Homo sapiens: one gene and its partners. The protein of the gene in region 1 interacts with the protein of each later gene in a pairwise test. Each region holds a gene or a part of one and is shown on either strand. Other genes may lie near its edges.

Region 1 (6,999 bases):
CTGGTGGTGAAATACTGAACACTTCCTCCCCCAGGGTGGAACGGGCCAAGGATGCCCACTCTCACCATTCTATTCCACATCAAATGCGGGTCCTAGCTTGTGCCACCAGCTCTGTGATCTCTAGGGCATCCTTTGCAAAGGAGCCATTGGGACATGGATGCTTACATTCCAGGCTCCAAGCAAGCTCCTTTCCCCAGGCTCTTCTCCAGGGTGAGGCGAAGAAAGATGGGGACTGCACACCCATCGTGGATGGCTCAATCTTGTGACTTCCTTGGGGAAGACATATGAGAACACGTGTGTGCACATCACACCCACATGTCTCCCCTAAACAAAGAACAGCCTCCCTGGATCTATATTTAGTTTAAAAATCAAAAAGCCTTCTCAGTAGGTAGCTAGCATGATAAAGATGCCTTCTTCTTTTTTTGAAAAGATAGGATCTCAGTCTTGCTCTGTTGCCCAGCCTGGAGTGCAGTGATGCAATCACAGTTCACTGCAACCTCGAACTCCTGGCCTCAAGGGATCCTCCTGCCTCAGCCTCCCAAGTGGCTGGGACCACAGGAACATGCCATCATGCCTGGCTTTCTTGTTTTTTGTAGAGACAGTGTCTCACTATGTTGCCCAGGCTGTTCTCAAACTCCTGGGTTCAAGAAATCCTCCCACCTTGGCCTCCCAAAGAGCTGGAAGATACTTTCTTTATACCGGTCCGCAAACCACCTCATGTCCAGGGACAGGCACCTGCCCTCGGGTCACTAGAGGCAAGTTGTCCTTGTCTCACCCTGAGACCCTGGACACAGGTGCCCGCGCCCTTGAGGTCACCTCTGTGAGCTGGCTGAGGGTCTCCCTGCCAGGAGCTGCCACCATGCCAAGCTGGGGTCAGCCGTAGGTCAGCGCTGGGTTCAAGGGAGGCTGGAGAGTAAGGGTTGGGCATTATCATCTCCAATGTCCCTAGGCCCAAGAAAGGGGCTCCAGCACTAGGGGGCCAGAAAGCTTGACAGTGTCCCCTCCATCTCTTTAGAGAGACTTTGCTGGCCACCACCTCCTCCATTTGCAGAGGGAATTCTCTTCCTAGCCGCCTGTCCTTTGGCCCTCCAGCTAGCCAACCCGCAAACCATGCCACCTACAATGAGAGGAAGCAGTGATCAGCACAGTTGCCTGGTACATAGTAGTTGCTCAGTAAACAATTGGCTGGGTGCATGAGTGAATGAGAGGGCCAGTGAGTGGACTGGCAAGGGCATGGAGGCCTGGGTGCAGAGAGGCCCTACAGGCAGGCCCAGACATAGATGGGTGGGCCAACTTGGGCCAGGCTTACTGGTGGAAACAGGCTGGTGGGAGTGGGTGGAGCAGGGGCCAAGCAGCCTTTAGCTGGGAGGCCAGCTCCTCCCACTGGCAGCATTCCCAAGGTAGGTGGGGACCCTGGCTTACCACTCCACCTCCACCCCCAACTAAAGGACTAGCTGTCTCCTAGCCAGCCTGCCTCCCACAGTGCCAACAGCAATTCCCCTATCCAAGAGCTCTGAGCTCCGTGCTGGAGGTGACAGCTGGCCAGTGTGGGCTGGCTAGGAAAGGGTTCATCCCCCTTCCTTCTCCAATCTGACTGCCCCAATTTGCGCTCTCTCTCTGTCACCATCTTGGTTCAGCAAGAATGGCATCCATGCACTTGGCCTGATTGTAGGAGCTCATCCCCTGAGCGCTGTCCTCTGTTGGAGCTGGGATGGAGGCTTCTGTCCATGGCTGTCCTATTCCCTCAGGACCTACACACCACAACTTAGACAAAATTGCCTCTGAATCTGCCTCCTCCCCCCTTCTACATCACCAACTCCTTACAAGCAGGGATGCAGTGAGATGTATTTTTGCATGCCCCTCAACACTCAGGTGTCAACAAGTATTTGTGGAGTGTACACAAATTTCCAATAATAGGAAAGAAGAAACTGGCTGTGAATCACTGAAAATAGATGAGATTCTGAAGAGTCCTAGAGCCCAAAGCACTTGATAATTTCTAAAAGAATTGATTTCAATATATTTCTACCAGATTTATTGGTGGAAATAAAAAAGGCTACATTTAGGGAGGAAATGTGACATCAGGTAGCAGGCTGAATATGGAGCAAGACCCAGCAAAAGCATGAAGAAGAATCTCGGTAAGGTGTGGATGAGCTGTCTGTTTACTCTTGTTTCCAGAACAATGGAGCTCCCCATTGACGTCAATGGGAGGGAAGAAACAAAAGAGCCTTTGGGTGTGTGCAGGGCGCAGCAGCCGGGCCTGGGTTTGCTTGGCATTTGTGTGTGTATGTGTTAGGGAGAGGGGGCGGGGAGTGTGTCGAGGTGTCAATGTCAGAGGAACAGGAGGAGGGGCCACCTGACTGAGTGTGTGAACAGCATGCAGGCCTCCCGGGGCTTCTGTGGGAAGGGCTGCCCCGATGAACTTGGTATTTGCCCTGGTTTGCATCTGAGAAGTTGCACACACACCTTGTCAAGTAGAAGAGAAGGAGTTATCACACTCAGGAATTCCTGATGTGGGTTCATAACTTTTCCTTCTGTCCCATCCCTGGTCCCCAGGTGAGTCCAGGTAAAGAAGAACAAGAAGAGTAAAGAGAGATGCTGCGGGCTCCAGCTTCTTGGACAGTCTCGCCTTCCCCATGAGAGCCTACACATTCAGAGCCTGCTGCGTGGGAGCCTGAAAGCTCCTTCCTGTCCTGTAAGTCTCAGGCTTCTACCCAGACCCGGGGAAATTGTACTCTTTCTCCTGACACTTTAAATGGAAGTTTAGAGGCTCCACATGCCCCACACAATGCTTACCGAAACAAGGTGATGCAGGGTCCCGCGCTGTCTCCCAGGACAACCTCCTACCCCTGGCTCCTGCGTCTCTACGGCTTGCACCGTTGTAAGGCGTCCCTTTCTCAGGGCCCATCTTACCCGCCTTGGAAGTGCTGCCTTTCTCACGGAGCCTGTGGGGATAGCTCTGGTTAATTTATAGCCCACATCGCCCAATTTAGCATTTGATTAAGTTTCCTTTTTATGAGATAGTCCTTTCTCCCTAGTGATGCGCTTGGGGGCAGGGACAACATCATTTCTTTCTTTTGTACCTCCCCAGAGTAACAATGACTCTATTTCCTGAACCAAAAATTGCAACACGTGGTCTCAAAAATAAGAAAGGTCACTTGGTAGCTGCCGGGACAAGTGTCGACCACAGGCACCTCAGAGGCCCGGGTGGGCGTGCCCCCGGAGCTGCTGCAGGGCGGTGCTGCCACCTTCTCCTGGGCTGCTCCGGGGCCCCGCGATGAATGAGTGAGTGAATGAGTAAATGAATGAATGTGAATGCGTGAATGAAGCATGCCGCGCGGACTTTCCCGCGGCCCTGGCCGCTGGGGGCGCGCCTCTGGCCGGTGGCCGGAGGTGGAGGTCTCCCTCGTCCGGCTTCGGCGCGCCGGGTCTGCCAGGCCGGCCGGAGGTGCGCAGGAGCCCCGCGCCCAGCTCCCCCGCCCGCAATGGTACGCGCCACTCCGCGCTCCCCGAGCTGGCGGGCTTGAGGGCGTAGTGAATGGAAGGCGCCGACGCCGGAAGTGGATGAGACCACTAGGGAGGACGACGGGTAGCACGAACGCGCCGCGTCTCCATTGAGGAACCGACGAGGTGAACATGGAGTTCCATGTGCGTCTTATGTAAAAAGAGCGACGGGCGCGGCCACCAATGGGCGCGCGGCGTTCGTAGGCCCCGCCCCTCATGTATGCAGATGAGACGGAGTCGCGGCCAATGGCGGAGGCCGGGGGCGGGCGCGGCGCGCGCGGTCACGTTTTCCACTATGTGACAGCGGCGACTCGGCCGCGGCGGAGGCGGCGGCGCTGAGGGGATACGTGCAGCTGTGGGCGGCGGCGGCGGGCGCGGGGCCGGGCGGACAGAGCCGCGAGTCGGCGGAGGGACCGGCGGACGGGCTGACGCGGGCGCGGCCGGCGGTAAGTGGCGCGGCGCGGCCCCGCTGCGGCTTACGTAACCGCCGCCGGCGCGCGGGCCTCGGGCAGGTCGGGGTCCCAGCGCCGGCTCGGGCAGCGGAGGCGCCGCCGGAAGTTCCTTGGGCTGCTGGACTCCTCGGCTTGAAACGGCGCCGGCGTGGGGGCGTGTGCCCTTGGCCCTGTCCCAGGTGGAGAGTGGTCGAGCCGCGCGCAGGGTGCGCTCGTTTGAACTGCGGTGACACCGAGGGTTGGGGACTCGAACCCCCGCTTCGCAGCTCAGGAGCCTGAGGTCCGAAAGGTGAGGCAGCGTGTGTAGGGCACCGAGCTACCGAGTGACTGCGCGCGGGCTGCGGTTCCGTGGGCGATTCTCTTTTGGGAACCCTCCCTCCCCTCGCATGGGGAAGGCCAAGGAAACCAAGGGTCAGCGCAGCCGGCCCTGGGATCTGGAGGACCCTCGGGGAGCTGACTGCCTCTTCTGAGGCCACAGGGCTAAGTCCTGGGCTGGGGAAGGGCCATGGAGGGGCGCTGATCTAGGAGCTTTTCCTGGACACCCACGGGTCTCCTGGAATGGGTGATCAGAGGGACAAGGAAGTCCCGGTGCCAAGCCAGGCCTGGGAACCTGAGGGCGGGGAGACCCTCTAATGTTCGCCCCTTTGCCTCCCCTGGACCACCCTGTATTAATTCCCTTTCCCCGGACTGGATAGAAGGGAATGGGGGTGTCCACTCTTTGGTGCAGCAGTCGCGCCTACCTTCTGGGATGTACTTTGGCTGCCAAGTCCCAGACATAGACCAGGGGGTGGGAGGTGGCCTGCTTCCCCCTTCAGGAAGGCCAGGGTAAGGGATGACGAGTTGGTTGCCAGGGTTTCTGTAACCTACACAGAAGGAACCCGTTTGGAAAGCTGATTCATACAGAACAACAGAGCCAGAAGGCACCCTGAAAATCACCCAGAGTAACCCCTCAGCCTGACAGATGAGCAAACTGAGGCCCAGGCCCAGGCTGTCTGCAGGATCTTCCCATCGTCCTGGGGCAGGATGAGCTTCAGAGGTTCAGTGATGGCCTCCACTTGCGTGCTGAATCCTGGGTGGGCTGGAATTTGGGAGGAAGGGCCTTAAGTCCGGGAAATGTGTTAAGAACCCCACACGGTGGCTAAAGCCCCACATGGACGCCTCTCACCTGTATATGGCACAGCAGGACTGCTAGACTTCTTGGCCCACCCTCTACCCCCACCTGGGGCTTCTGGTCCCAGGCTGGGTGTGCCTGAGAAGAAAACAGGACTCTACCTGAAGGCTTTATTTGGAAATTGAGTTTTAAAATACAAGGTGAATTGATTTTTGTGTGCTATATGACTATAATGAAGAAAGGGACTCCGTTTTTTTTGAGTGGAAGCTGTGTGGTGTGCCAGCGCGGGGATGGCACCGTGGGTGTTTGCAGTTATCTGTCACTGTCGCCTTGGTATGATTCATTGGTACAGAACTAACGCAGCCCTGGCTTTCTGTGGAGACTGGAGTGCCAGGTGGGAAGGGGGAGCCCTGTGTCAGCCAGCTGGCTGCTGCTGGCTCCCAGTCTGGGCCTCAGTTTCCTTGTTTGTTTGGAGGGGCTCAGATTGGGCAGTCTCAGAGGTCTACTTTAATTCCCAGGTTTTTGGTTTTCTGTTACCCTACAGATGATTTTTCCCAGGTTTCTCGCAGGAGACAGAGGCTTCTGATATGCTCTTGCCTTTGGGCCAAGTAATGTTCTCCTGTGAGCCACGTCTGCAGTGCTTACAAGGAAAAAGGAAAGATTCCTCTCCTGTGCACTACTTCTCGTACCCACTGAACTTTCTCAAAAATACTGGTAGTCACACTGCTGTTTTTAAGCGATGATGTAACTTCACCAGGACTCGGCAAACCACGGCTCTGTCAGGTCATTGAACAGCTGGCAGGGCCACTTGGCGTTTAGTCAGAAGAAAGACAGGCTCTGGGTGTGCTTTTACCTTTTGAAAACTACTCTGTTTGGCAGAGGGAGCCAGAAACACACAATTCCATAAGCTTGGCAGAGACTGTCGCCACACTTCTGGAAAGCTGGCCCACCTTGGGAACCAAGGGAGAATTAGTCTAGAGGGGGCCTCTGATGGACCCCTCCCCCAGCCCACGCACTCCCCCCTAGGGACCAGGCCCTCCTTTCAACTCATTATGCTCATCGTGTACACATTTGTAACAAGTTTGTTACCATATCTCCAAGTCTAGAGCAAATTAGAAGCAGTAAATGAATAGCAGTGACTGGTGACAGGAGTCAAGGCCACTTGGTTTTCAGAGACTGGTAGTTCCCAAGACAGAGTGAGCTGCCGTGCTGAACCCTCACCGGCCTCGAAGGGTTCCTCGTGCTCTTCCTGGGGTGACATAGAGGAATCAGAATCCACTCTTTAAGAAACCAGGTACAGGAGGAGCAGATGCCTGAGCTTCCTGCAATTCGGAGTAGCTCAGTCCCTGACCACCGGGGAGCTAGGAGGCTGACACTTTTGCCTTTATTTGCTTTAAAGTCTTGTAGTTCTAAAAATGTAGGGATTTAAAAGTCTGAATTGAGATCATTGAAGGTGTCCTAGTGAGGCCAAGACAATGCCTCCCCGGTGCACCTCCTTCCCTCCATATTTGGATGGCTGCGGTCACATTTTCCTCAGTTACCCAACCGTTGCCATGGAGAGTGCGGCTGTTTATTTAGCAGGACAAACATTTTCTCAGGATTACAGCAGGCTGGCCTCAGGGAGTTGGCTCCTACCAGGAAGTAGAAAACATGTTAGAATATTTGGGGTTGTAAAATCCTGCAGGGCTTGCAGAGACAGTACATGCTGTATGAGCCCTATTATGTAAAGTTCGAAAACAGGCAGAATTCACTAGGCTGCAAGAAGCCAAGCTAGTGAGTCCCCGCGGGGTAGATGGTGGCTGGGAGGGCCACCAGGAGCCTCTGGGGGGCTGGCACTGTCCTGCCTCTGGTGACATGTGACATGGCATGTTGTTTGTGGATATACATCAAGCTGTGACCTCATGAGGTGGGACTCCTCTGGTGATTGAACACTGA
Region 2 (7,022 bases), on another chromosome or scaffold:
CATCAGCAAGTCAGGAGCTGCCGGCGGCTCTGCCAAGTCCAGCAGCAATGGGCCTGTGGCCAGTGCACAGGTGAGAAGGCCTCATGGGGCTGGGGTACCCTGAGCCAGAGGTTGTGGGAGGGACACAGTCTGGCGTCCTGTTGTATCATTCAGACGGGGTGCTCTGAGGGGAAACATGAAAAGACGTTCCAGGGTATCTAAATCTGAACGGGAAAAAGTTCTGTTTCCTTGAGGAAATTAGGGCGTGATGTGGTTCTGAAGAGGGAGGCCATGCCCATGCCCCTGGTCTCTAACGTGCGTGAGTCTCATGGTAGAGACAGTGGCTCACTTTGCAGATACATGGACCCAGTTTCATCCCTTGGCAATTGGCCACCAGTAAACAGGCTTGCCCTTTGGGGGCCGTGTGCCTGTGGATTTGGGCTGCTGACGGCACATGTGCCTCTGCTTCCACAGTACGTGTCCCAGGCAGAAGCCTCAGCTTTGCAGCAGCAGCAGTACTACCAGTGGTACCAGCAGTACAACTATGCCTACCCCTACAGCTACTACTATCCCATGGTGAGTGCCCAGCCAGTGGGGCGGGGCAGGGCGAGGTGGAGTCTGCTGGGTCGGGGCGAGGTGAAGTGGAGTCTGCCGGGATGGGGCTGGGTGGTGGATGGACTGGAGATCGCAGTGATAACTGCTCAGAAACCCTCTAACTTGCCCAGGAGGTAAATTCCTAGGTCCCCGCCATGAGCCACAAGGTCCTACATACCCGGTTCTGGTCCCTTCTCTCCTCATGCTCATTCTGCCATGGCCATCGAAGCAGAGACCTCCTTGATGCCCGCACCCGCCAGGCCCGCTCTCGCTTTGCCCTGGCTGCAGTGCTCCCTGTGTTGCCGCCTCTTGGAGGTCTCTGCTCAGATGCCGCCTTCAGAGAGCCTCTACCTGACACACTGATTGAAAGTAGCATTCCTGCCTCGCAGCCTGTCCCTCTCCCTTTCTTTGCCATCTTATTGTTTCATGATCCTTATTGCTGGATGTATTACATGTTGATGTCTCCAGCCGGACATGTAATTCCAGCACAAGCTTCATTACAGCATGGGTTTTCCTTTTGTTCTGTCGTAGTGCTTAGAAGAGTTGGCACTCAGTATCGTTGATTATATTCTTCCGAGAACTAGCTAAGTGAGATGTGGGATTGATAGAGGTTTTTCTTTTCCTAATATATGAGAGGATGTGGTGCATTAATATAGTGAAGAGAGAAAGGGGTGAGGGATTGGTAGAGGGTCATGGCTGGTGTAGTTCCTGAGCAGGCTGGGGAAGCGGAAAGGGTAGGCCTCCCACTAAACCCTCCCTCCCTGCGCCTTTGCAGAGCATGTACCAGAGCTATGGCTCCCCTTCCCAGTATGGGATGGCCGGCTCCTATGGCTCAGCCACACCCCAGCAGCCATCCGCACCCCAACACCAAGGGACTCTGAACCAGGTAACATCCTAGCCCAGCTCCCATACCCTGCTCAAGCAGAGGAAGTGTAGATTTTTGAATGAGCTGTCAATGAGGAATGGCTTGTACTCCTTAAGCTGCTTTTTTCCTTCCAAGCAACTCCTGATCTGAAAATGAGGAGGACAGAGCATAGTGTTTGAACCTGGGGTGGGTTTAAGGCTGAGCCAAGGCCAGGGCTGAGATGTTGAAAGACATCTCATCTTTTTCCCTAGCATGGTCACCCACAGGCGTGCACACACCGGCTGGGTTTTGCATTGAATGTGCAGCTTGGAGGAATGGCCGGGCTAGTGCACAGGAGGCAGGTAGACCTGGGTTTGAATCCCAGCTGTCCCACCCCTGGTGTAATTACGCATCTCGGTCAGCTCTCGAAAGCGGGAAGGATGGTAGCCTCATCCTTGGGCTCCATGAGTGTGTGTGCTCATGGGTGTCTTGTGCTCAGATGGTAGCGCTGGAGTGGGTGTGTTGTCGGTGGCTGTTACTCCAGCATTGAAACGCTGCCAGCTGCCGCTTCATAGCTTAGGGCCCTGGGAAGTCGCTTAGTCTCTGAGCTGGAGCCTTGTCAGCTGTGAAAAGGGCTGTTAACAAATGTTAACCTCACAGAGTTACTGAGGACTCGAATGAACTCACATTTGGGAAGGTCACGGGAGGGTTGAGTGCTGAGTGCTGTGACCACTGCGTCCTCACAGCGAGGGCTGAGTGCCACTCGCCAGCCCCAGAATCTGCCTCCCGTGCTCAGCGCCTGCTTCCTTCTGCAGCCCCCAGTCCCCGGCATGGATGAGAGCATGTCCTACCAGGCTCCCCCTCAGCAGCTGCCGTCGGCTCAGCCCCCTCAGCCCTCAAATCCCCCACATGGGGCTCACACGCTGAACAGTGGCCCTCAGCCTGGGACAGCTCCAGCCACACAGCACAGCCAGGCGGGGCCCGCCACGGGCCAGGCCTATGGGCCACACACCTACACCGAACCTGCCAAGCCCAAGAAGGGCCAACAGCTGTGGAACCGCATGAAACGTAAGTTGGCAGAGCTACGTGGAGGTCCGAGCGGTTGGGCCCTCATAAGAGCTCCTGGGTGTGAGGCCCGTGGTGTGTGCTGCTCCTTGTTTCTGGGTGTTGTGATCGCCAGGCTGGGGGTGGGGCTGCTCTGGACCAGGCACATGTGTGCTGGAGCCCTCCTCTAGAACCTGAGCGCTCCTCCCTGCATTTCCACTTCCTCCCGTCCCCTGGGGACCCCTGGATGTGCCGGGGAAGGGCCTAACCATAGCTTTCGCTGCCCTCACAGCCGCCCCTGGGACTGGAGGTCTCAAGTTCAACATCCAGAAGCGACCCTTTGCTGTTACCACCCAGAGCTTTGGCTCCAACGCAGAGGGCCAGCACAGTGGTTTTGGCCCCCAGCCCAACCCTGAGAAAGTTCAGAACCACAGGTGACGTCTGCCCCCTTGCCCCGTCGCAGCCCCACACTCTGCACTCAGCGTCTATGGTCCAGTCCCACTGGCCAGCTGCCCACCCTGAGCCTCAGTGTGCGCCTCTGAAAAGGGCAGAAGGACCCTCTCTTGGGGGTTGCTGTGAGCACTGAAGGAGACAGAAGGAAAACTTGGGGACTGCGTCCCGCTGTGTCAGCTCAGAGTGGCGGTGGGGATGGTCTTTTGAGTTTGGGATCGTCTCCAGCTGAGCCCCTCATCTGTCCTCCCGCAGCGGGTCCTCTGCCCGGGGGAACCTGTCTGGGAAGCCGGATGACTGGCCCCAGGACATGAAAGAGTATGTGGAGCGCTGCTTCACCGCCTGTGAGTCGGAGGAGGACAAGGACCGCACGGAAAAGCTGCTCAAGGAGGTGCTGCAGGCGCGGCTGCAGGACGGCTCGGCCTATACCATTGACTGGAGCCGGGAGCCCTTGCCGGGGTTAGTCTGGGTGGGGGACATAGGTGGGAGGGTGGTGCTGTGAGAGGCATGGGCTGGGTATGGAGGTAGGAGAGTTGCGGGTCCCAGGTACCAGGAGCTCCAAAGAGAAATGAACTGGAAAGTTGGATCCTGGGGGGATGAAGTCCTGGTTGGAGGGAGGCCGGTGGGGTGGGGTGGGGACCATGGGTGCTGGAGAGGCGTGCATTGCTCAGTGGTTAAGCGCACCCTCTGGAGACGGAAAACCTGGGTTCGCGTCTCATTTCTGCACTGTAGTAGCTGAGCCGCCTGGGGTAAGTGCCTTTCCTTTCGGAGGCGGGTCGGTACCTTGAGGGAGGTGGTGGCGGCTGTCCTGCCAGTGTCTGGCGGGGTTGGTGACGCCCTGCCCTGCTGTATTCTCAGGCTGACCCGGGAGCCTGTGGCTGAGAGCCCTAAGAAGAAGCGGTGGGAGGCCGCTAGCAGCCTTCACCCTCCTAGAGGGGCAGGCTCGGCGACAAGGGGCGGGGGTGCCCCGTCCCAGCGAGGGACGCCCGGGGCTGGGGGTGCCGGTCGAGCCCGGGGCAACAGCTTCACCAAGTTTGGCAACCGCAACGTCTTCATGAAGGACAACAGCTCTTCTTCCAGCACAGACTCCCGCTCCCGCTCCTCCTCCAGGTCCCCGACGCGCCACTTCCGCAGAAGGTACTGAGGCTCCCGGCTGGGGCTGTGTGTGAGGGAGGGGGAGGCGTTTCAGGCCTGACCCTCCTGCTTCTTCCTGCAGTGACTCCCACTCAGACTCCGACAGCTCCTACTCAGGGAATGAGTGTCACCCTGTGGGCCGCAGGAACCCGCCCCCTAAGGGCCGGGGCGGTCGAGGGGCCCATATGGATCGGGGCCGAGGCAGGGCGCAGCGTGGGAAGAGGTGAGACTGTGTGAGGGCTCGACACACGGGCCAGGGTGGAGGAGGGTACTGGGGACCCATGGGAGAAGGAGGAGGAGGGCCGGACAGGTGGACAGCCAGCTGCCAAAGGGGCGAGGCTGAAGGGGGGCTGGAGACGCCTGTCGCGCTCACTGCCCCTCATCCCTTCCTAGGCACGATCTGGCGCCCACCAAGCGCAGTCGAAAGAAGATGGCGGCGCTGGAGTGTGAGGACCCGGAGCGAGAGCTGAAGAAGCAGAAGCGGGCAGCCCGCTTCCAGCACGGACACTCCCGCCGCCTGCGCCTCGAGCCCCTGGTGCTGCAGATGAGCAGCCTGGAGAGCAGTGGGGCTGACCCTGACTGGCAGGAGCTGCAGATCGTGGGCACCTGCCCTGACATCACCAAGCACTACCTGCGCCTCACCTGTGCCCCCGACCCGTCCACCGTGCGCCCTGTGGCAGTAAGTGCCCAGCAGGGCAGTTCTGCTCTGTGAGGCCGTGCTGGCTCAGGACTTGGGGAGCCAACCCAGGGAGGGTGGCAGAGGCCACACGGGGGCTCTGGTATGGCAGGGGAAGCTCGGCCAGAGACGCCTCGGCTGGTCGGCATTCTGAGAGGAGCGCAAAGGCGCTCTGCTGCCCTGGAGCCCCGCGTGGCGGGTGTGCAGCTTGGCCGGCGAATCGCTTGACCTCTGGGCCGTGGTTCCTGGCTTAGGTGACACGGAGCATAAAGCCTTCTCCCAGGCCCGTGGGCTGTGGGGCGTGGGGGGCTGTGTTTCCAGTGTTTGGCGTAGTCACTGTTCTGCTGCAGAACCTGTGAACAGCCATGTGCTTATAGGGAAATGGGTGTGGAGGTGGCCACTCTTAACCCATGTCTTGTGGGTTTGTTTTCTCTTTTTTTGGGAGAGAGTCTGGCTCTGTCGCCCAAGCTGGAGTGCAATGGCGTGATCTTGGCTCACCGCAGCCTCCGCTCCCCGGCTTCAAGCGATTCTCCTGCCTCAGCCTCCCTAGTGGCTGGGATTACAGGCGTCTGCCACTACGCCTGGCTGATTTTTGTATTTTTAGTAGAGACGGGGTTTCACCATGTTGGCCAGGTTGGTCTCAAACTCCTGACCTCAGATGATCCACACACCTCGGCCTCCCAAAGTGCTGGGATTACAGGCGTGAGCCACTGCGCCTGGCCTTTTTTTTCTTTTTTTAATGTTGCAACTCTCCCACCAAATAAGTGGAAGCCGTTGGCCACGCTACCTGAGTTGTACTCCGAGTGTGAATTCAGTTCCCTTTTTCAGGTTTTGAAAAAGTCGCTGTGCATGGTCAAGTGCCACTGGAAAGAGAAGCAGGACTACGCGTTTGCCTGCGAGCAGATGAAGTCGATCCGGCAGGATCTGACGGTGAGACTCGCGCTGGGAGGGGCCTGGCCTCAGCCAGTCCTGCCTCCCGCTCCTTGTGACTCTTGTTCTCGCCCCGCTGCCCCAGGTGCAGGGCATCCGCACCGAGTTCACGGTGGAGGTGTACGAGACCCATGCCCGGATCGCCTTGGAGAAGGTGAGCTGGCCTCTGCGGGCCTCCCCAGCCCCTTTCCTGCTGCCGTTCTGCCCTCAGCACCCTCACTCTGCTCTCCTCCCTCGGTGCCTCTGCCTTCCAGGGTGACCATGAAGAGTTTAACCAGTGCCAGACGCAGCTCAAGTCGCTGTACGCCGAGAACTTGCCTGGCAATGTGGGCGAGTTTACTGCCTACCGAATCCTCTACTACATCTTCACCAAGAACTCGGGAGGTGAGGCCCAGTCCCCAGGACAGAGGCCATGGTACCCAGGGTTGAGCCCTGCTGACTTCACCCTCTTTGTCTTGGTGCTAGACATCACCACGGAGCTGGCATACCTCACACGAGAACTGAAGGCAGATCCTTGCGTGGCCCACGCCTTGGCATTAAGGACAGCCTGGGCCCTGGGCAACTACCACCGCTTTTTCCGGCTCTACTGCCATGCACCCTGCATGTCTGGCTACCTCGTGGACAAGTTTGCAGATCGGGAGCGCAAGGTCGCCCTCAAGGCCATGATCAAAACGTATGTGGTGCCAAGCTCCCTTCTGCCTTTGCTCTTCCCATCCTTCCGCCTCGCACCGCCCCTCAGACCAGCTCCTGGCCGCAGGCCTCCCCCAGCCCCCAACCCTTGTCCTGGTCCTTGCTTCCCCATCATCTTTCTCCATTCAGCCCTCCCCTCTCCAGTTCCTCTTGCTCTCCTTGTTGGTCACCTCTGTGTTCCGGGTCACTCCTCTCCCTCTCCCCACTGTTCCCAGCTCACTGCCTCTGGGGCCTCTTCTCCACCCCATCTGTGTGTCTCTTCCTCCTGTTCTCTCCTGCCTGGACCCCCTAGTTCACTCCTTGCCCTGGGCTTCCTCAGAACCCTGAGGTCTCTGCTTTCTCAGCTTGTCGCTGTGCTCCCACCATAGAGACCATCTAGACAGCCTCTGGTCTACCAGGACAAGGCCCAGTCCCACTCAGCTCCTTTGAGAGCACCAGAAACGCTTAGGGAGACACCTGTGTTGAGGCCACACTGGGCGCGGTGCCAGAGGCCCCTGGTCAGGCCATGCCCCTGCAGTGTCCTTCGTTCACTAGACATTGCGCCTGGCTTGCTGTGGGTGGGGATGAGTTGCTTGACTCATGTTTAGACGCATGGTTCTGTCTGGTGATTGAGGTGCCCAGGCGACGCTGGGCAATGTCAAGAGAGGTTTTCGCTTGTCACAGCAAGGGGATGCTCTTGGC
Region 3 (7,293 bases), on another chromosome or scaffold:
AGATTGTTTTGGACTCTGCTTAACTTTGATGTAAAACGTCTGCAGATTCTTGTCCGCTCTGTAAAACAGAGGTGATCAAGAATGGCTTCTGCCCTTCAGATGGGCCATTTTCACAGTATCACAGGCAGGAGACTCTACGCCCCTAAGCAGATTTTGGGGCCATCAGAGATGTACAGTTAGTTTGGATCACACTTGGGTTCCTAAAACACCCTGGAGTTAATTCTCCAGAAGGGCAGTAGGGCTTGCAGAACCCTAAAGAGGCAGAAAACCTCTATTCCCCATGGAAACTTTAATCCTTTCAGGCAAGTTCTGTTTCTGTTGGAAATCCAAGACTTTGCAAACAGGATAAGGCCTTCTAAAGTCACAGGGTGAATATAATGAGTGCAGGACTTAGGATATTTAGGCAGGGGGGAGAATTGGCCTAAGTATTTCCTTTCATTAGTGTCTCTATAGGTAATGATTTCCTTACTTAACCAAAGAAAAGCAATGGAAGCAGCTACCCCTCGCCTATTAAAAGGAGAAAGATGGATATCTTTAATTGAAAGCAAAGCATCACAAAATTCTTTAATTATAAGCTCAAAGGGGCTTTGAGCTCATCTTGTATCTTCTTGGCTTTCAGCAGGATAGCATTAAGCTTTCCTAAAAAGATAAGACTCAACCTATTTTAAAACATATCCAAAGATGGCATTCTAGTTTCTGTTCCTTTGTTAGCGTACTTTTTTTCCCTTTCTAACCTCACCACAGGTGAACTTTTCCTATTACTAACCTGAAGTCTTCACATTAGAGCTTGGCTCAGTTTGCTCAGCAGAGCTGGTGAACAGCTGGTCACCATCAGCCTTTTCTAAACTGTACTTCCATCTGTCCATCTGTACAAAATTATAAGAGTTAATTAGGATATTTGGATTTAAATCAATAAATTTGAAGCTAGATGCCAACTGAATGACTCACTGACATGGCAAAAGACTGCCTCTCTTCTTGCCATAGCTTTTCTTATCTCTGTCATCAGCTCCAATGCTAACACCTCTCCCTTTTCCATCTCTCTTGCAAAACTCCCCACACAATTTCATTCACACACACACACAAATGTGCACACTTATACTGGTAAATAGAAAAACATCCCTGAAGCAGCTAGTTAACACTTATACCTTACCACTCACTATTCACATTGAGGTGTAAGAGTCGTCCAGGGTCCAGACTCTCGAACCCACTGTCTGGGCTTAAATCCTGGCTCTGGGACCTTGGAAATATTTTGCAATCTCACTTTGTAAGCATTTTCTCATCTGTAGAATGGAAACAATAATAGTATCTACCTTAGAGGGTTGTGGAAATGATTAATGACTTAATACATAAAAAGCTCTTTGAATGCAGTCTGGTACTCTAATCTTAAAGGCTATATAGTTGTTAGCTATTGTTACACCCTTCTTGCGCAAAGGGATATTCAGAGGCATCAAACTATGCCCAATATTCCAGAAGCCAAGAGTTTGAGAAAGAACAGGAATGGGATTCAAGTTTAAGGGAAGTGGGTAACCAAGAAGAGTCACCAGGGTGAAAGATCAAAGAAAAAAAAGGGCAAAAAGCAAACAGGAGATTGACAGAACTACAGAGAAATGGCAAAAGCTGGCATTTAACAGGGAAAAGGTAGACAGAGAACATAAGGGAAAGGAAGATAAAGAAGAAATGAAAAAGGGAAACATGAGTTAAAAGGTGAATATGTAAAGGAAAGACAGAAAAGAAGAGGAAAAGGGGATCAAGAACAACAAAGGAGATAAAAATTGGGAAAAGACCCCATTTGCAGTTTGAGTAGGTATCACGGGAAAAGGGTACGGAAGTGGGGAAGCTTGGGGCAGAAAGGATGGGGGGAGAGAGGAGCCTCAAAGAGATAACAGAAAAAAGCTTCATGTGTCATTTGCAGCTTTTTGTCCCTTTAAATTATGGGGTGCTGCAAGCTTATTTAACCCACCTTTGAGCCTCAAGGCTCCTGATCGTGTTCCTCCTATTTCAACTTGCATTTAATCTCTGCCCCAGACTTAGCTTCTAAGGTTTGCCCTGGTCAGATGTCTGCCTTGTGTTTTTAGCCCGACGAGGCCAAAATGCAATGATCTTGTCTTTATTTCATTTTCCCTAACCAGTCATCCTTTTCAAGTGAAATTTAGCTCTGGAGCAAATATTTACATCCCCTTTCTACTCCAAACATTCAGAAATCTAGAAGGGGACCTGGTGTTTTAATTTTTAAATTATTCACCTAACGGCATTCCCATTTTTAGTCAATTAAAAAGAGGTAAAAATGATACAGTACTGCAGGAATAGGTCGCTTTTAGGGCTCCAACGTGCCCTCCCCATCGAAGGGTCTTAATTACCTAACCTTTTGGAAATAGGAGAGAGGTCGGACCGAGATTTAAAATAAAGTCAGCATTTTAAAAATACTTTTTAAATTAAGAACCATCGTGATTAAATTGCCTGTTTGGTGCAAAATACGTTCCTCTATTTGAGGAAGTCGAGAGACCTTAAAAGGCCCTCTAAACAGATGAACTGAACGGACCGCGAGCGTCTCCTCACGCCGGGGTGATCCTGGGCCGCCGCCGCCGCCCGAGTCACGAAGCCAGACGCAGTGCGCGTCTCCGCCCAGGACTCCGGAGACTGCAGCAGCGCGAGCGGCCGCCGCGGCCCGGGCTGCTCCTGGAGTCGGGGAGGAGACGCGACTCCCGCAGACACGTGACCTCCTCCCAGCCGCCGCTTCCCGCGACCCAGATCCGTCCCCGGAACCCGTGCCCGGCGGGGCGGGCCGGGGGACACGTAGCGGGCGCCCCAGTCCCTGCTGCGCCCTGGTGCATGTACCTTTGGCGTTCTTCTCCCCTCGGTTCACTTATCACCGGCAATAATCAACGTTTCAGAGATCACCCCGGGGAGAATGTAAATATCCCTCTCTGTGCAGGAAAAACCTTGGTTTTTTTCTCTATGTCTTTATGTATATCTAGAGAAATATATATATAGCCTCCATCCCACCCCTGGGAGTCCCTCAGGACATGCCTTCCCCTGGGCTGGCAGGGCGGCGTGGGCAGTGCGCATCCCCGGGCACCTCCCGGTAACTCTCACTAGCAGTGAGTCATGCTCCCAGGGTGGCTCTGGGGAAAGGTAACCCGGCTCTTGCTGGCCTGTGATTCCCGGCGCCGAGCGCCGCGGCTGCAGGGCGAGCGCGCGCGCGCACGGGTTCCCCGAGCAGTGATGTGGCAGCAGCGGCAGGTCGGATCACGTTGCTGGCCCTGTGCTGGTACCCGTTTGAGACCGGATTAAGGAGGGAGGCTTTGGAGGTGCCAGCGGTAGTAAACGTGGGCTCTGCACACTCCGGGCGTCTCTTATCGCGCGGGGGGGCGGGGGGATGGGGAAAGCACGTAGCGTCACCGGAGGCTCAGAACGCGGCAGAGTTGAGCGGGCGGGTGATAAATGCTGCATAGCTTTTCTGTGGTAGCCCCTCTCGTGCCACCCCCTCTCGTGCCACCCCCTTCTCCCTTCCCAGCCCCCACTCAACCCCGGCTCGCTCCCCGCCGCGTTCCTCCAGGAGCACACGCGGCCCCAAACGTCGTCATCTGCTGCTGTGATTAGTGGCACCGCAATTCCGGCTGCTGCGGGGAAGTTTAGTTGGCCCAGGGACGCCGTGTCACCGAAAGACACTTGGATTGCGACATTCGGACCCAGTGACAACGTTTTCATGTATCTTAAATCCTTCAAGGAGCGGATTGCAAGTTGCTTCTTCTCGAGGCAACCTCTCCACCCAGCGCCAAGGAGTCCCTCCAGGCCACTGATCAGTGAGCAAACAAGTCTCCAAAATTTCCTTTGGGACTCAAGTTTACCCACCGCGAATTCTCTTTTCACTTCCTTTCTATGGTTCAAACCAACAGCACAATCGGTGGAAAAGCAAAAAGCCACGTTCACATTCCTGCACCGTAACAACGGACGAACCCAGGGAGTCGCATTTTGGAGCCAAGGAAGCTCAGGCTGCCCCGCACCCCTGCACCCCCACTCCCCCCTCCTCCTGCCGACTGCATCGCCTTTGGGAAGATGAATAGCTTGGCCGAAGTTGTTTTTCCTTTCCGGTGGCCCTGATCAGGTGTCCCCGCCCCCTCCTGCCGTTCGCCTTCTCTCGCCGCCTTCTCCCGACGCCCCCGCCCGGCCCGGCCCCTCCTCCCCCGCCCCCCTCCGGGCTGGACCGCGGATGGTACGTTCCGCACGTGAGCTGGGTGCTGGTCTGGCCGGCGACGCGCGTGCCCTGTGGCCAAACACTGCCTGGAGTGAGAGCAAACTACCAGCGCAGTGGGGCCGGCGCGAGTGTGCGTGTGTGTGCGTGTGTGTGTGCGAGCGCGGTGGAGGGGGGGGACCAACTGCTTCACACTTTCAACACTGCACTGAAGAGGGAGAGCGAGAGAGAGACTGGAGACGCACAGATCCCCCCAAGGTCTCCCAAGCCTACCGTCCCACAGATTATTGTACAGAGCCCCAAAAATCGAAACAGAGGAAACGAACAGCAGTTGAACATGGACGAAGGAATTCCTCATTTGCAAGAGAGACAGTTACTGGAACATAGAGATTTTATAGGGTAAGGTGCACGCACCCTTGCGAATATCTGTCTAGGCTTTGGTTTGATTTTTTTCTTCTCCAGAAAGTGGTATGGAGCTGGCGAGGGCAGAGCCCCTCCCCGAATGGGTGCCTGATGCTGATTTCTGTTTTGCAGACTGGACTATTCCTCTTTGTATATGTGTAAACCCAAAAGGAGCATGAAACGAGACGACACCAAGGTAAGTGTAAGTTCCCGATATTCCTCATAACCTGCATGGGTAGTTAATTAGAGCCATTGATTTCACAGTGAAGCTCTGCCCGCAAATATATTCCAGCCCCTGAGCTTCCCCAACTGTGAATTTTAAGTGGCTTGCTGGGTACTCTCAGGGGGATATTAAACATCATACCTGAATTTAAATTGCATTGCAGAACAGTCCAGAGGAAAGAGGTTTCTTGGGTGTAGTTTATCACATAGTATGTTTTATGGTGGGGGGGCGGGGGGGGCAGACGAGGGTAATATCCAATAAGTGAATGTTTCGCTTACTGTTTTCTCTTTTCCATGACTCTCATATATTAAGGATACCTACAAATTACCGCACAGATTAATAGAAAAGAAAAGAAGAGACCGAATTAATGAATGCATTGCTCAGCTGAAAGATTTACTGCCTGAACATCTGAAATTGACAGTAAGATGCACATTTTCATTCTTTGCTGCTCTCCAAGGGCGTGTTAATAGTCTGGTGCGACTCCCAGAAAATATAAGAATAAATGTAAATATAAGTTCCTGACTTAAAACTTGTGCTATACCGTACAGAGTTTCCCGCAAACTGGAGTAGGTGCTCCCAGCTGAAGGCAAGAAATCATTTATAACCTGTCTTGTGGAAAGCTCAAGAAGTAAAAGAACAGTACTTCTTTCAAAGTGTTTGCTTAAATTGCTGTGCTGAATGGACAGCCAATTAAGCCAAATGTGTGTTTTTAAGTAACCAAGTGCCCGTTTCTTTTTTGCACCACTGCAGACTCTGGGACATCTGGAGAAAGCTGTAGTCTTGGAATTAACTTTGAAACACTTAAAAGCTTTAACCGCCTTAACCGAGCAACAGCATCAGAAGATAATTGCTTTACAGAATGGTAAGTCAGTTCAGGGAGGCCAGCCTACCCTGATGAAGCGGGGCAGCCCACAGGGGAGCAGTGTCAGGACTCCCTCACCCGCACCCCATCTCTTTCCGTGGGCTCATGGGTTCCCTCTCATTTGTTAAATTGCTTATACTTTCCCTTCATTGGAACGAGCCCATTTCCCGAAGCATCCTAGAGGCTTTCAGCAGAACTCGGAGGAATCAGGATTTAAAGTGGCGGTTGCACCCGCTCCACTTTGGTTTTCAGCTGGGAGGAGAGCGCCCTCTCCCCGCTCCGCACCTCCGCCACCCCGCTTCTCTCGTCAACTGGTGGATTATATCACTTGAATACTGGGGAAAAACCGAGATCACTTTAGTCGATGCAGGGCCCACGTGATAAGCAGATGTTTTAACGTGGGTATGTTTCTTCTTGCCTCCACTCCTCCGTCCCCCACCCCCATCCCTTCCTCATCCTAGGGGAGCGATCTCTGAAATCGCCCATTCAGTCCGACTTGGATGCGTTCCACTCGGGATTTCAAACATGCGCCAAAGAAGTCTTGCAATACCTCTCCCGGTTTGAGAGCTGGACACCCAGGGAGCCGCGGTGTGTCCAGCTGATCAACCACTTGCACGCCGTGGCCACCCAGTTCTTGCCCACCCCGCAGCTGTTGACTCAACAGGTCCCTCTGAGCAAAGGCACCGGCGCTCCCTCGGCCGCCGGGTCCGCGGCCGCCCCCTGCCTGGAGCGCGCGGGGCAGAAGCTGGAGCCCCTCGCCTACTGCGTGCCCGTCATCCAGCGGACTCAGCCCAGCGCCGAGCTCGCCGCCGAGAACGACACGGACACCGACAGCGGCTACGGCGGCGAAGCCGAGGCCCGGCCGGACCGCGAGAAAGGCAAAGGCGCGGGGGCGAGCCGCGTCACCATCAAGCAGGAGCCTCCCGGGGAGGACTCGCCGGCGCCCAAGAGGATGAAGCTGGATTCCCGCGGCGGCGGCAGCGGCGGCGGCCCGGGGGGCGGCGCGGCGGCGGCGGCAGCCGCGCTTCTGGGGCCCGACCCTGCCGCCGCGGCCGCGCTGCTGAGACCCGACGCCGCCCTGCTCAGCTCGCTGGTGGCGTTCGGCGGAGGCGGAGGCGCGCCCTTCCCGCAGCCCGCGGCCGCCGCGGCCCCCTTCTGCCTGCCCTTCTGCTTCCTCTCGCCTTCTGCAGCTGCCGCCTACGTGCAGCCCTTCCTGGACAAGAGCGGCCTGGAGAAGTATCTGTACCCGGCGGCGGCTGCCGCCCCGTTCCCGCTGCTATACCCCGGCATCCCCGCCCCGGCGGCAGCCGCGGCAGCCGCCGCCGCCGCTGCCGCCGCCGCCGCCGCGTTCCCCTGCCTGTCCTCGGTGTTGTCGCCCCCTCCCGAGAAGGCGGGCGCCGCCGCCGCGACCCTCCTGCCGCACGAGGTGGCGCCCCTTGGGGCGCCGCACCCCCAGCACCCGCACGGCCGCACCCACCTGCCCTTCGCCGGGCCCCGCGAGCCGGGGAACCCGGAGAGCTCTGCTCAGGAAGATCCCTCGCAGCCAGGAAAGGAAGCTCCCTGAATCCTTGCGTCCCGAAGGACGGAGGTTCAAGCAGAGTGAGAAGTTAAAAT
Region 4 (7,038 bases), on another chromosome or scaffold:
CCATAGTACTTTGGACCAGGTCCTGAACTTTATCTGTGTTATCTCAGTTGATCATCACAACCACTCAGTAGAGTAGATATTAGTATTCCTCTTTTTTGGGGTGGGGGGACGGAGTCTCACTCTGTTGCCCAGGCTGGAGTGCGGTGGTGCGATCTCGTCTCACTGCAATCTCCACCTCCCAGGTTCAAGTGATTCTCCTGCCTCAGCCTCCCGAGTAGCTGCCACTACAGGCGCGTGCCACCACACCCGCTGGTTTTTTGTATTTTTAGTAGAGACGGGGTTTCACCGTGTTAGCCAGGATGGTCTCGATCTCCTGATTTGGTCTCATGATCTCGGTCTCGGTCTCATGATCCACCCACCTCGGCCTCCCAAAGTGCTGGGATTACAGGCGTAAGCCACCGCGTCACAACCACTCAGGAGAGTAGGTATTATTATTCCCACTTTACAAAGAAAGAAATGGATCAGATAGATAGGTTAAGTAAGCTTGCCTGGGGAACAGCCCTGGCTGGAGGGAAAGGTTCTGACCTGACTCCACCCAGACACCCCCACTGCCACCCCAACTGCTTAGGGGAAGCTGTGAGGAAATCCAAGGCCACTCCTCCCAGGAGCAGTTCACTCAGCATTCACAGCCCTGAGGCTCTGTGATGGGGGCCCTAGCATTGCTGGAGGAACATCCTGGGTAGCTAAAGTACAGAAACATGGGAGTGAGGAGGTCCTAAGAAACCCTCCAGTGTGCAGATTGCTCTGGCCCCAAAGCACTTCTATAAACACTAGTCAGAGGCCAGGTGTGGTGGCTCATGACTGTAATCCTAACACTTTGATAAGTGGATAAATGTGGGAGGCTGAGGCGGGCAGATTACCTGAGCTCAGGAGTTTGAGACCAGCCTGGGCAACATGGTGAAACCCCATCTCTACAAAAAATGCAAAAATTAGTTGCATGTGGTGGCATGCACTTGTAGTCCCAACTACTTGGGGGGCTGAAGCAGGAGGACCTCTTGAACCCAGGAGGTCAAGCCTGCAGTAAGCTGAGATCACGCCACTGCACTCCAGCCTGGGTGACAAAGTGAGACCTTGTCTCAAAAACAAAACAAAACAAAAAAATCCACTAGTTAGGACAGGTATTATTGCCCCATTTTTACTGATGTGGTAGCTGAGGGCTGAGATTTCCCTCAGGGCCTACAGCTAGTAAATGGCAGACCACATTCTTATAAGTGATTCTGCCCCAGCATTTAAACCCTTCTTGCCACCTCCAAGCCTGTGTGACTATAAATGTTAATTGGTAGAGGAGAGGTACAAGCAGGGTCACTGTGGAAAGTTCAAGGCCAGGAGCTAGGGTCAAACTCCCACTGTTCCTCCACCCACAGTGGCCTTTGTGACAAGAAGGGGGAGGGGTGGGGACTGTGAGATCTGGAGGCTACCGAAGGTTACAGAGCCTGGGCTGTCCTTTTTCAACGGTTGAGGCACAACCCATCCCTGAGTCACTCCAGTGGGTTGAGGCGTCCCCAGGCATGGAACCCCCTAGAACCCAAAGAAAAGTGGTCCCTAATCACTGGATCAGGCATCCCAAGGAGAGGGCCCTCCAAGGATGGGGCTGGGGAAGTGTGTGCCACCGCAGACTACCCAGGCTCCACATATTTTCCACCTTGACCCCCAGGCCCTCCCTGAAAGGGCAGATTTGTGCTGAGCTTTAAGTGGTTTCTGTGGTTTAGGGTTGGGGAAGGAAGGAAAGAGATGCTGGGGACTGCTCCCCAGTTCCAAGCCACCACCACCACCTCCCATCCCTTCCAGAGTGTTTGCCCCCAGCATGGAGATTTCCCCAATAAGGGGACTGGGCACGTGGGGATGAAATGATTCTCTGATCCCTATCAGCCCCTTCCTTATATAAGATTGTATTTGAAGAGGAAATAACCACCGCCCTGCTTTGAAAGGACGATTCTTCCAGATAAGGGGCTGTGATTGCAGCAAGAGGGAGAAAGTTTAGACAAGAGGGGGAACTTCCCATAAGGATAACCAAGGGATCTTCTTGCCCTGGGGAGAAAAAAAACTCAAACTATCCATGCTTAGGGCAGGGGAGAGGTAGAGAATGCCTAGGAAGCATGTGACACTCCTAGGCCTAGAGGTCAGGATACTGTCTTCTAAATCTCCAGTCACTTCCTCCCCACCCTACATAGTAGCACAAAGTGGCACAACTGGGGAGTCAGCTGTGCCTGCAGTGTCTGGGGATGCTCTGTGTCCATCCGCAAGCATTCTACGTGACCTCCACTCTGTGCCTGCAATTGGTGGGTTGTAGAAGAGGTAGTCACGAAGGGCCCCTGGGAGACCCAGAGTCAAGAGGAAGAGAGGCCTAAAAAGGAGAAAAGATAGAGAGGGGACAGCTGGAGAAGAGCCACAGACAGGCAGGAGCCAGCAAAGAGAGACAGAGAGATGGGGGATAACTGAGGAGTTCTGGGGAGGAGGGGAGCAGAACGGCATCTCCCCTGCACTCCCACGCCCGGCATGTTGCTGGCTCCTCCTGTCAGCTGGAGGGTGCTGGGGGGGCGGGGGGGAAGGGAGCTGCAAAGCACTTTACCTCTCACTCCAAACCTGCCCAAGGTGCAGAGCCCCCAAACAGACCAACATCCTGTTCTGTGCAGAGATGCATACATGGATGCGTGGGCCCACATTTACCAAAAGAACACGGGGGATAATCAGAGCCTCAGAGGCATAGGCACATACCCTTAGACTCAGTGCAGAAGGTCCCCAAAACTTCCCCTCCTCTTTCTCACTACTCATCCACTGTCAATGACCCTAGGAGTTGAAAAGTCCTTCTCCACTTCTACCTTTATCTCTCAATCTGCAGCCATGGGGAGACTCTGGGAGCTACCTAAGAACAGAGGTGCTGATGGTAGCAGAGTGTGAAGCTCCAGGGTTGGGCAGGAGTGGAGGATGGCGAGACGAGACGGCAGAAGAGGGAAGGGACAGCTGCTTGCCCTCTCCATGCCAGGTGCCACGTGCACCAGGTGGGGGGGAGTGGGCGAGTCACGAGGCTGTGGCATGGCTGACTCCTGCTCTGCTGTTTACCAGCTGGGAACGAGAGCAGGAGGAGGTGCCAGGGAGCCTCTTGCTGCAGCCTGGCCCCTGGCCAGTTGCTTGTTGGGTAACCAGGAGAGTCAGGCCCAGCTAATCAAACTCTGGGCCCAGGCCATGCAGGAGAAAAGCAGCACCAGGATCCCCAGAAGCCTCGTCCTCTTGGCCCCCTTCAGAGCCTTCACTGCAGGCCTCAGTGTGGGCCACTAGGTCTGGGAGCCTCTCCTTCTCCCAATGAGTCCAGTGCAGCATCTCTCCTCTCCTCTTCCCCACCATGGCTTCTCTGCCTCCAGGCACTCCTCCAGGCCTGCCCCTTGCCCCAACAGATGAGGAGCACGTAGAAGCATCAGGGGGTCAGGGAGTCCTGGCAAGAGCAGCAAGGGTTAGGGGCAGGGGCCGAGCAGGCAGAGGCCTCAGGGAACTGAACAGTCACTGGGAGGAGTCTGACTGCATCCTAGAGAAGAGACACAGTCCCCCAAACCTGCCCTCTCCATCTCCCCTATGCCTGTCACCTGTCTTAGGTAGAAATCACAGGATTCTAAAGTCACAAAGACTTGGGTCCAAATCATAGCTCACCCATTTATTGTTCTTGTGTGAGTCCTTGGGCAAAATCATTAATATCTCTGAGAATCCCTCCACTCACTGATCAATCTGGAATAATAATGTTTCCCTGTGGTGGGTGCTGTGAATATTTACACAAAGTAAAAGCATGGATTTACATAAAGTGTCCTGCAAAGGGCCCAGCACACAGTAAGTGATTAATAAATGCTAGTTCCCTTCCTTTCTCCTGTCCTGTTTCTCCTCAAGGCTCCATGCACTGGTCCACTGGTCTCTCCTCATGTCCCCTCCTGGTGCCAGGACACTCTGCCAGCCACTCCTTTTCCCTGCCTGCTGGAGGGCCAGGTGCTCCCGCCTTCCACCCTCCGCCCTCCTCCCTCCCCTGGGCCCTGCTCCCTGCCCTCCTGGGCAGCCAGGGCAGCCAGGACGGCACCAAGGGAGCTGCCCCATGGACAGGGCCCCACAGAGACAGCACCGAGCCTCACGGGGTAAGAGGCCCATGGCCCTGCCTGCAGGTGGAAGAGACTGCTGGAGGTTCAGAGGAGGGCAGAAATGGCAAGAGACTGGGCAAGAAGTGAGGAGGGGAGGGAGGGACAAGAGTGCAGAGGAGAAAGCCCTGGGTTGGCAGGGAGTGAAACTGGAGGAGAAACAGGAGGAGGGGCTGGGGAGATGACAGAGGAGAAGAAATCGCAAAAGGAGAGAAACAGGAAAGAAAGGGAGAAGCGGGAGAAGGAAGAAACAGGTTGGAGGGTAGATGGGGAGGGAAGAGCCAAGTCAGGGGAGCCAGATCTAGACCCAGCGAGGGGTCAGAATGTGGACAGGCCCTCCCAGGTGTGGGCTTACCCCCCAGGAGGCACAGGGACACTGCTTCCTTGATCTGGCCAGGACCCCAGACAGCAGTGGCCGGGAGGCTGGCTGCTCCACCTTCTGTTCATTCACCAGTGGAGAAACCTGTCCTTTAAGGAGTGACAGACTTGGGGAGTGTGGCAGGGGGAACCACACCCTGTCAGCTGCCCATGACCACGTAGCCTGGTCCTTTCCTCGCCACTCACCCAGGGATGTGGGATTTCATCTCTGCAGAGAATGTGGGGCACTGGGCCATCAGCAGGGAAGGACAGAATGTCAGGCCGTCCTTGGCCCCACCCATGGTCCAAGTCAGGAACCCCCTCAGAGCAGGATCGCAGGGCCACAGGCTTGGTCAGCTGTGAGCATGGAGGAGGAAAGTTTGAGGGCCAGAGCCACCAAGCTCCAGGGCCACCTGGTGGAGGAAGAACTGGCTGCCTGGGTGAGCAAGGGGAGCACCCCCACCACAGGACTGCTCTGAGGTGCAAGGCTAGAGGCCAGGAGCCGGTGCCACGTCAGGGAGGAAGCTGGGTGGGGCCAGGCAGGAGCAAGGGGAGGTGGGCGGGGCTGGGTGGGGCCTTGCCACCTCGGGGCAGTCTTTTCTCCTCCCTCACCCCAGCAGAGCCCAGGCCATCAGGCCACTCGCCTCCACACAGCCTAGTGACCACGGCCTGCCAGTGGGGAGCATCTCCCGGGCAGAAGGGCACTGTGTGTGTGTGTGTGTGTGTGTGTGTGTGTGTGTGTGTGTATGTCAGGTGTCAAGACTGAACAGCAGAAGGAAAAAAATAACAGAATAGAGTCAGAGGTTAGGGAAGCTATAGGGGGTATAGGGCATGGTTGAAGGGCTTTCTGAGACAAAAGACTGGCCATGTGTTCTGTGATGAGCTGCTATGTGGATGTAGGAAATGGGCCAAGGTCTGGCAGGGGAATCCTCTTTCCAGGGGCTCCCTGGCTAGGTGTTTCATAGATGTTAACTGCATGAATGGGTGACACCCCCCCACCCACCAACCATGCTCCAGCTAAGGCCCTCCCCTCAACGGCTGCTCCCCCTGGAGGTCCGAGTATCCATGTGACCCCCATCGACCCACTCATGCTCCCTACTGCCCAATCTCCACCCAGACCCGGCCACGCAGCAGCAGCAGAGAAGGGAGGCCTTCCTCTTCAGGCTGGTAGGCCAGGGAAGCCTGGCCCGTGGAAGCCAGAGAGGGGTCTGTATTTGCAACTCTCCCCTCCTCTTCCTCCAAACATCCTCTCCCCCTACTCCCAACCCCCACATCTCTGAAGCCCTGGTGTTTTCAGGCATAGATAAGCAACCAAGAGATTTCAGTCCCACAGAGATTTAACTCTGGCTGTAGGATATTTCTTGTGCACCTCCAATGAAATTACAAAGTAAATAAGACCAACACAGTCCCTGCCTTCACAGGGCTTTACAATTTGGCAGGAAAGACCCATTTCATAGACAATGACACAATTACAGCAGTTAGGTGACAGTTGGTGACATGGTGAGTGCCAGGAAATAAAATGCAAGGAGCTAAATGTGTCAGCACAAGGGCAGGGGAAGGGGGTGTGTGTGGCTTCTCCAAGGAAGAAACATAATCAGAGACCTGAGGGAGAAAGAGAAGTTGGCTAGATTAAGGGGTACAGGAGGGACAGGCATTCTAGGCAAAGGAGCAGCTTGGGGGAGTCCCAGAGGCAGTGAGGAGCCTGACACTTCTGGGTACCTGGAAGAGGGCCAGTGTGGCCCAAGGGCAGAGGAGGAGAGAGGGGCACTGCAGGGGGTGGCCTGCCTGCCCTTCAGACGCCAGGCTCTGAGGGAAGGAGTGCGGCAGTGGGATCCTAGGAGTGGGGAAAGTGTCTCAGCCCCTCATGATCTTCAACCTTTGACGTCAACCCCCTCTCTTGTCTTTACAGAGCTGCTGGCTGCAAAGAAGACCCACACCTGTGAGTAGGGGGTCCGGGGCAAGAAAATGGCTGGGGCATAATGAGATGGAGAATAATTCAGCAAGTGATCTGTGGGGGGACTGAGGTTGGACAGAGGTGGAGGAGTCAGGAAGAGATGGCAGGCAACAGGAAAGCAAGGGGAGGTGCGAGGAAACCACAGATCAGGGCAGTGGGAGGAGATGAGGAAGAAGCCTGAAGCATGAAAGGAAACACTGTAAAGAAACCAGGAGAGAACAAAGGAAAAGGGAACCGCCTTGTGAAAAAAGGCGAGGAGAAATGCTGGACAGAGGCAGGGAGATGGGAGGGGGTGGGGCCGACTGCCAGGCCGGGGAAGGAAGGAGATAGAGGTAGGGGGGTGTGCGGAGGCGGGGTGGCCTCAGGAACTCAGGAACTCAGCGCTGCTGCCAAGGGAGACAGGGAGCCTGCACCAGGCTTTTTTTTTTTTTTTTTGAGACAGAGTCTCACACTGTCGCCTGGGCGGGAGTACGATGGCACAATCTCGGCTCACTGCAACCTCCACCTCCCAGGTTCAAGCGATTCTCCTGCCTCAGCCTCTCGAGTAGCTGGGACTACAGGCACCCACCACCACGCCTGGCTAATTTTTGTATTTTTAGTAGAGACGGGGTTTCA

Evidence for each region.
Region 2: the proteins of PER2 (region 1) and LENG8 interact in binary tests that used the Homo sapiens proteins (3 or more experiments, as listed by UniProt).
Region 3: the proteins of PER2 (region 1) and BHLHE41 interact in a two-hybrid assay, tested with the Homo sapiens proteins (one study listed by BioGRID).
Region 4: the proteins of PER2 (region 1) and RORC interact in a two-hybrid assay, tested with the Homo sapiens proteins (one study listed by BioGRID).

The regions. Positions count from the first base shown.
Region 1 is NC_000002.12:238,285,592-238,292,590, reverse strand, and holds the start of PER2 (period circadian protein homolog 2), read left to right. Parts: upstream 1-3,980; 5' UTR 3,981-4,242; intron 4,243-4,693; exon of another isoform or gene 4,694-4,722; intron 4,723-6,999. UniProt on the Homo sapiens protein: Transcriptional repressor which forms a core component of the circadian clock.
Region 2 is NC_000019.10:54,452,198-54,459,219, forward strand, and holds part of LENG8 (leukocyte receptor cluster member 8), read left to right. Parts: coding exon 1-70; intron 71-453; coding exon 454-555; intron 556-1,348; coding exon 1,349-1,459; intron 1,460-2,232; coding exon 2,233-2,485; intron 2,486-2,753; coding exon 2,754-2,895; intron 2,896-3,166; coding exon 3,167-3,370; intron 3,371-3,769; coding exon 3,770-4,048; intron 4,049-4,127; coding exon 4,128-4,268; intron 4,269-4,438; coding exon 4,439-4,724; intron 4,725-5,549; coding exon 5,550-5,651; intron 5,652-5,736; coding exon 5,737-5,805; intron 5,806-5,905; coding exon 5,906-6,035; intron 6,036-6,116; coding exon 6,117-6,324; coding exon of another isoform or gene 6,325-6,709; exon of another isoform or gene 6,710-7,022.
Region 3 is NC_000012.12:26,122,016-26,129,308, reverse strand, and holds the start of BHLHE41 (class E basic helix-loop-helix protein 41), read left to right. Parts: upstream 1-4,271; 5' UTR 4,272-4,529; coding exon 4,530-4,591; intron 4,592-4,726; coding exon 4,727-4,790; intron 4,791-5,129; coding exon 5,130-5,237; intron 5,238-5,567; coding exon 5,568-5,679; intron 5,680-6,140; coding exon 6,141-7,243; 3' UTR 7,244-7,293. UniProt on the Homo sapiens protein: Transcriptional repressor involved in the regulation of the circadian rhythm by negatively regulating the activity of the clock genes and clock-controlled genes.
Region 4 is NC_000001.11:151,828,799-151,835,836, reverse strand, and holds the start of RORC (nuclear receptor ROR-gamma), read left to right. Parts: upstream 1-4,034; 5' UTR 4,035-4,072; coding exon 4,073-4,112; intron 4,113-4,704; exon of another isoform or gene 4,705-4,707; coding exon of another isoform or gene 4,708-4,909; intron 4,910-6,378; coding exon 6,379-6,408; intron 6,409-7,038. UniProt on the Homo sapiens protein: Nuclear receptor that binds DNA as a monomer to ROR response elements (RORE) containing a single core motif half-site 5'-AGGTCA-3' preceded by a short A-T-rich sequence.